2 linked regions of the Homo sapiens genome follow. The protein of the gene in region 2 purifies or fractionates together with the protein of the main gene of each other region. This does not show direct contact. Each region holds a gene or a part of one and is shown on either strand. Other genes may lie near its edges. The genes, in order: PLBD1 and C1orf146.

The links.
Region 1: the proteins of C1orf146 (region 2) and PLBD1 purify together in Homo sapiens (affinity purification with mass spectrometry; one large-scale study listed by BioGRID and IntAct). This does not show direct contact.

What each region holds. Positions count from the first base shown.
Region 1 is NC_000012.12:14,529,773-14,533,595, forward strand, and holds part of PLBD1 (phospholipase B-like 1 precursor), read right to left. Parts: intron 3,477-3,823; exon of another isoform or gene 3,291-3,476; intron 1,439-3,290; exon of another isoform or gene 1,270-1,438; intron 470-1,269; exon of another isoform or gene 367-469; intron 1-366. UniProt on the Homo sapiens protein: In view of the small size of the putative binding pocket, it has been proposed that it may act as an amidase or a peptidase.
Region 2 is NC_000001.11:92,231,122-92,234,944, forward strand, and holds part of C1orf146 (protein SPO16 homolog), read left to right. Parts: intron 1-260; 5' UTR 261-299; coding exon 300-365; intron 366-3,823. UniProt on the Homo sapiens protein: Plays a key role in reinforcing the integrity of the central element of the synaptonemal complex (SC) thereby stabilizing SC, ensuring progression of meiotic prophase I in male and female germ cells.

The sequences.
Region 1 (3,823 bases), on a different chromosome or scaffold from region 2:
CACAATCATACAAAAAAACAATCAAAGACATACAAGGGATGGAAGAAGTCAAACTGTCTTTATTTAGAGATGTCATGATTGTATATATAGAAAATCCCAAGGAATCTACAAAAAAGCTATTAGAAAGATCTCAGGATAATAATGTACAAAAAAATCGTAATACATTGTGGTAGTTTTCAAATTTCCACAAATTCTTTGGCACCCTTCTCTTTAAAAGGTGGATTCTAATCGCCTTTCCTTGAATGTGGGCTGGTCATAACACCTTGCTTCTAATTAATAGAACCTGGTGGAAGTGAGCGTGTGTGACGTCTGAGGTGAGGTCACAATAGGCATTACTATTTCTGCCTTGTTCTTTTGGATGGCTTCGTCTGGAGCCAGGGGTCTTGCCATGAAGGACATTCAAGCAGTTCTGAGGAGAGGCCCAAGTGAAGAGGAACCAGTTGCCAGCACCACCCTGTCAGCTATGTTAGTAAGTCGTTTTGGAAGTGCATGTTCCAGTCTCAGTTAAGCTATCAGAGATTTTAGCCCCTCAGTCATTGAGTCTTCCAGCTGAGGCCCCAGTCACAGTAGAGACAAATTATCCCCACTGTGCCCTATCTAAATTCCTGATCCACAGAAACCATGAGTAACTAAATCATTATTGTTTTTAGCCACTAATGTTTGGAGCAATTTGTTATGTGGCAATGGGTAACCAATAAATACATATGAGCAACAAACAACTGAAAAAAGAATAAAAAACATTTTGATTACAGTAGCATCAAACATTACTTAGGATTTAACTTACTTAAAGGTATGTAAGACCTAAATACTGAAAACTACATGATATGACTCAAATTAAAGACTGAAATAAACAAATAGATTATATTAGTAGATTGGAAGACTCAATGTTGTTGACAAGTAAATTTTCTCTGGATTGGTTAAAACTATCAGATCTTTGTGCTGAGGTCTTCACACAATTGTATTGGCTGCCATTTCAGTGCCGTCATTTTCTAGTGATTTATCTCTTTGTCTTACCTCCTTGATTATTAATTTGCATTGCCAAAATAAGTAAATGTGTGGGGAGGGCTAGTGCAAGGCTTCTCCATTCCTTACTCAGCCTTAGCTGTTACTAGGCAAACAGACCATGTATTCAAAACCCTTCTTGTTAGGGACAGAAACTCCTAGAACAAGGCCATTCAAAGCCACTTTCCTTTGGGTATCCAGTGCCTCAGGCAAGTGTTTTTTGTTGTTGTTGTTGTTTTGTTGTTGTTTGTTTGTCTTTTTTAACAGGGCCCCTGCCTATATAAACAATTTGATTAAAAACATATATTTAAAAATTCATCAGTACATGTGAGATATGATGATTTATCATTGAAGATTTAGGATGATGGGCAGAGAAAGGCAATCTGTTTTGTCTATTGTCCAATCAGTGCACGTGAAGATTTGTTACAGTATCCAGGTACCATCTCTTTGTATTCTTTATTATTAAATGCATTGTTCTTGGCTAATTTCCTATTTTTTGTTATGAGAAAAAGGTAGCAATACTGTTATTACAAAACCATGACTTTTTGGAACCTGTTTGTTTTGAAACAACACAGATCTCCTTGCCTCTGCAGTTCCCTAACACCATTTTCTTAATGACTTTGCGACATCTACCACTCTACCTGTGAATCCTGGCTTCTAATGACTCAAAAATCCTTATTATGCTTTGTTAATGATGACCACAAATGCAAGCCTTACCCAGAGTGTTAAAAAAATTGTGAATGATAATTTGTTTTATGGTTACTAAAGCTACACTGGGAATTTTACAGTGTAAACATAGATCGACATGTTTTCTGTTGGACTCTTCAGGCTAATTGCTGCCTCCCTAGAATGTAATCTCTTTGTTGTTGTTCTTGAGACGAGGCCTCACTCTGTCCCCCAAGCTGAAGTGCAGTGGTGCTATCTCGGCTCCCTGCAACCTCTGCTTCCAGGGCTCAAGCTGTTCTTCAGCCTCAGCCTCCCAAATAGCTGGGATTACAGGCATGAGCTACCAACACTCGGCTGATTTTTTTGTATTTTTGCAGAGACGGGCTCTTGCCATGTTGCCCAGGTCTCAAACTCCTGAGCTCAAGATAATCCGCCCACCCTGGCCTCCTAAATTGCTGGGATTACAGGCATGAGCCTGCTTAGCCTGTTTAAATGTTAAGTGCATGTATTTGAAAGTAGGTACATAAAAAGATAAAAGAACAGGCTAAAAGCCCCAGGAAAATTTAAGTAAAGTTTTCATAATTTAAGGCTTCACAATTTAAGTCAAGTCTTCATGAGTCAAATCTCTTTTCATGCTGAACCCTCCCCCACCTTCACTCCTCACCCACGGGCACCAGTGGGTAGGATAGGTGAGAAGCCTATAAGTCGAGCTGGAAGAGCTGTCCCAATCACACCAGAAAAATCCATCTGGCTTAAGACTGACCCAAGACAGTAGGAAGTCACATCACCAACTGCAGCAAAAGATTTGCTGCAAAGGCCCGTTTGTGTTGTGGAGCAAGGTTCTCAAAAGGCCTCAGAGGGGCCAGGCCTAGCCCGCCCCAAGGACTGACCGACACATGGTACAGAGCTGCAGGGGTGAGGAGGCCACGACAGGGGCCAGATGTGGAGCTCATAGGTCGAAGTTCGCTTTACCGTCCTCCCCTGCTGCATGCTGAAACCCGAGGGTAAGAGGTGGTTTTCAGTAGCATAGAGCCCTGAACATATGCTCTGACATGAGAGTCACCCCAGGTCATCGTGTGACCACCGTTCTGACAGCTCAGTTATGCACCATCTTGCAAAAAATATATACTGTGAGGGCCAACTAGAGGAATCTGCTTACCAGGACCAGGCCATAGGCTTGAGTCCCAGAGCTCCTTAGGGCATCTTGTTGAACCCATGCGTGGGCAGGAATGGAGGAGAAGAGCCCCCAGATAGGGAGTCCACATGCGTTGCTTTCTGGACTCAGAGAAGCTGACCTGGATGGCTCTGCCACCTTGGTCAGTCTTGGGCACTAGAAGGGGATTTTGAAATTTTCTGGAAAGGAGCTTTCTAAACTAGATGCACAGAGACACAGGTCAAGATACTGCCAGCCTGGCCAGTCTCAGGATGCTGGAGGGGGATTTAGGTAATTTTCATGAAGGTAATTCCAAGCTGGGAGGGTGGGGTTCCTGTGCCCAGACCTAAGGGTGGTACTGAGGTTATCAGCACCTGGTATACTTTGGTATACTTTTGACCTTCCCTGGGTATTGCATGTTAGCCTCTTTAGGTGAAATAATTTCCTCAATCTCCACTTTGTATTTTAGAAAAGACTAAAAAAGACCAAGCCTGTTAAACAACTCCATCAAAGAAAAACAAGGAAGCCATCCAGCTTTGTTCTGGACTCAGCAGCTAAGATGGCATGAGCTTCATCGTAAAGCATAGTTCTATGTCATGTCTACTGGATGAATCCAATGTGGCTGGTCCCTTAATAAAATAAGTTGTAACATAAATGAGACTGCACATGTTTTCCTGTTTGGTGCTGAGAACAAAGCTGCCCAGTTAGAGAAAATATGAATCCCACTGTTCCATTGGCTCCTGTAAAAATGTTTTGGGGTATATATAAAACTGTCTGTTGCTCTCTTGGAGATTCAATTGCTCCAAAAAGCTCTACATATTATCTATGAAATCTACTTGTGTATCTCATCTGGAAGGATACATATGCAAATGTTAACAGGATTATACGTTTCATAAGAAAATCTTCCATGACCTTCTCCATCACTACCTCTGGGATCCAGGACTGTTAACACTACTGGAGAGCATTGTATTCCACAGAGATTTCAAAGCAGTGCACATAACA
Region 2 (3,823 bases):
ACCTTGCGTGTTCTTGATGCAAGTCCTCATTCTTTGAAGTTAGTGTGCTGAAATGGGAATCATTGCTTTTGATACTTGTTAATGGGAAGCATAGTATTGAATAGGCTAAATGTATAACAAGACAGATACTTTTTCTGTTGTCAAATTTTGATGTTCAAATATTCTTTAAAATGTCTCCAATACCCTAGTTTTATTTCCATCTTTAATTTACTCATTCATCAGATATTTCTTTGCATTCTTTGTGTTCTTAATTTTCTCAGATTGTTGCACCATTAGAAGCTAGGTTGATCCACAGACAGATGGCTGAAAGTGGAAAAGAAAAAATAAAATGGACAACCACCATTATTATTAGCTCATCTCTTAAGGTAAAGGGGCATTTGGGCCACTGATCTTTAACTTAAAAAAATTAAAAGCAGCTTTCATATAGAACAACATTTTAAAAGGTTCTTAGCTTAATTATCCACAATTAATTGTGGGGAGCAGGAAGTACATAAGCTAAATGTATTTTAAAGATAAATTAATAGACTTTTTCCATTCATTTTCAACATCCGACTTCCTTAATTCTTTGAAGGTTGGAGATTTTCTAAAGTTTTTTTTTTTTTCCTTCTGTAAGCACTCTAATAGAGATGTTAAGGAATTCCGGAAACAGTAAAGATATGCAAATATATATTAGTTAAGGCTTTCTGAGAGCTAAAGAACCAGAAACTGATATCCTAGCCTTGGCAGCACTGGAATGAGACTGTCTCCTTATGGTTTGGAGAGGGAGAGATGGAAAGTTGAATGCCTGAGAGCAGGTGGTCAGCTCACAACCGTTTTAAACTCCTCAGCTCACAAGACTTCTCCATTGCCCTGATATTTATCTTACGGACACCAGCTGATGTCTGGAATGAAGGGGCAAGAAATGATTGTTCCATAGTAACGTGTGGTTTTATGCTTTTTGCTGTATTTTGTTTTATACTTTGTTGTGAGTCCATTTTCATAAATTATATATATTTTTATTATTATACTTTAAGTTTTAGGGTACATGTGCACAGTGTGCAGATTAGTTACATACATATATATGTGACATGCTGGTGCGCTGCACCCACTAACTCGTCATCTAGCATTAGGTATATCTCCCAATGCTATCCGTCCTCCCTCCCCCCACCCCACAACAGTCCCCAGAGTGTGATGTTCCCCTTCCTGCGTCCATGTGTTCTCATTGTTCAATTTCCACCTATGAGTGAGAACATGCGGTGTTTGGTTTTTTGTCCTTGCGATAGTTTGCTGAGAATGATGGTTTCCACCTTCATCCATGTCCCTACAAAGGACATGAACTCATCATTTTTTGTGGCTGCATAGTATTCCATGGTGTATATGTGCCACATTTTCTTAATCCAGTCTATCATTGTTGGACATTTGGGTTGGTTCCAAGTCTTTGCTATTGTGAATAGTGCCGCAGTAAACATACGTGTACATGTGTCTTTATAGCAGCATGATTTATAGTCCTTTGGGTATTACCCAGTAATGGGATGGCTGGGTCAAATGGTATTTCTAGTTCTAGATCCCTGAGGAATCACCACACTGTCTTCCACAATGGTTGAACTAGTTTACAGTCCCACCAACAGTGTAAAAGTGTTCCTATTTCTCCACATCCTCTCCAGCACCTGTTGTTTCCTGACTTTTTAATGATTGCCATTCTAACTGGTGTGAGATGATATCTCATAGTGGTTTTGATTTGCATTTCTCTGATGGCCAGTGATGGTGAGCATTTTTTCATGTGTTTTTTGGCTGCATAAATGTCTTCTTTTGGGAAGTGTCTGTTCATGTCCTTCACCCACTTTTTGATGGGGTTGTTTGTTTTTTTCTTGTAGATTTGTTTGAGTTCATTGTAGATTCTGGATATTAGCCCTTTGTCAGATGAGTAGGTTGTGAAAATTTTCTCCCATTTTGTGGGTTGCCTGTTCACTCTGATGGTAGTTTCTTTTACTGTGCAGAAGCTCTTTAGTTTAATTAGATCCCATTTGTCAATTTTGGCTTTTGTTGCCATTGCTTTTGGTATTGTAGACGTGAAGTCCTTGCCCATGCCTATGTCTTGGGTGGTAATACCTAGGTTTTCTTCTAGGGTTTTTATGATTTTAGGTCTAACGTTTAAGTCTTTAATCCATCTTGAATTGATTTTTGTATAAGGTGTAAGGAAGGGATCCAGTTTCAGCTTTCTACATATGGCTAGCCAGTTTTCCCAGCACCATTTATTAAATAGGGAATCCTTTCCCCATTGCTTGTTTTTCTCAGGTTTGTCAAAGATCAGATAGTTGTAGATATGCGGCGTTATTTCTGAGGGCTGTGTTCTGTTCCGTTGATCTATATCTCTGTTTTGGTACCAGTACCATGCTGTTTTGGTTACTGTAGCCTTGTAGTATAGTTTGAAGTCAGGTAGTGTGATGCCTCCAGCTTTGTTCTTTTGGCTTAGGATTGACTTGGCAATGAGGGCTCTTTTTTGGTTCCATGTGAACTTTAAAGTAGTTTTTTCCAATTCTGTGAAGAAAGTCATTGGTAGCTTGATGGGGATGGCATTGAATCTATAAATTACCTTGGGCAGTATGGCCATTTTCCCGATATTGATTCTTCCTACCCATGAGCATGGAATGTTCTTCCATTTGTTTGTATCTTCTTTAATTTCATTGAGCAGTGGTTTGTAGTTCTCCTTGAAGAGGTCCTTCACATCCCTTGTAAGGTGGATTCCTAGGTATTTTATTCTCTTTGTAGCAATTGTGAATGGGAGTTTGCTCATGATTTGGCTCTCTGTTTGTCTGTTATTGGTGTGTAAGAATGCCTGTGATTTTTGTACATTGATTTTGTATCCTGAGACTTTGCTGAAGTTGCTTATCAGCTTAAGGAGATTTTGGGCTGAGACGATGGGGTTTTCTAGATACACAATCATGTCATCTGCAAACAGGGACAATTTGACTTCCTCTTTTCCTAATTGAATAGCCTTTATTTCCTTCTCCTGCCTAATTGCCCTGGCCAGAACTTCCAACACTATGTTGAATAGGAGTGGTGAGAGAGGGCATCCCTGTCTTGTGCCAGTTTTCAAAGGGAATGCTTCCAGTTTTTGCCCATTGAGTATGATATTGCCTGTGGGTTTGTCATAGATAGCTGTTATTATTTTGAGATACGTCCCATCAATACCTAATTTATTGAGAGTTTTTAGCATGAAGGGTTGTTGAATTTTGTCAAAGACCTTTTCTGCATCTTTTGAGATAATCATGTGGTTTTTGTCTTTGGTTCTGTTTATATGCTGGATTACATTTATTGATTTGCGTATATTGAACCAGCCTTGCATCCCAGGGATGAGGCCCACTTGATCATGGTGGATAAGCTTTTTGATGTGCTGCTGCATTCGGTTTGCCAGTATTTTATTGAGGATTTTTGCATCAATGTTCATCAAGGATATTGGTCTAAAATTCTCTTTTTTTGTTGTTTCTCTGCCAGGCTTTGGTATCAGGATGATGCTGGCCTCATAAAATGAGTTAGGGAGGATTCCCTCTTTTTCTATTGATTGGAATAGTTTCAGAAGGAATGGTACCATCTCCTCCTTTTACCTCTGGTAGAATTAGGCTGTGAATCCATCTGGTCCTGGACTCTTTTTGGTTGGTAAGCTATGGATTATTGCCACAATTTCAGCTCCTGTTATTGGTCTATTCAGAGATTCAACTTCTTCCTGGTTTAGTCTTGGGAGAGTGTATGTGTCGAGGAATTTATCCATTTATTCTAGATTTTCTAGTTTATTTGCATAGAGGTGTTTGTAGTATTCTCTGATGGTAGTTTGTATTTCTGTGGG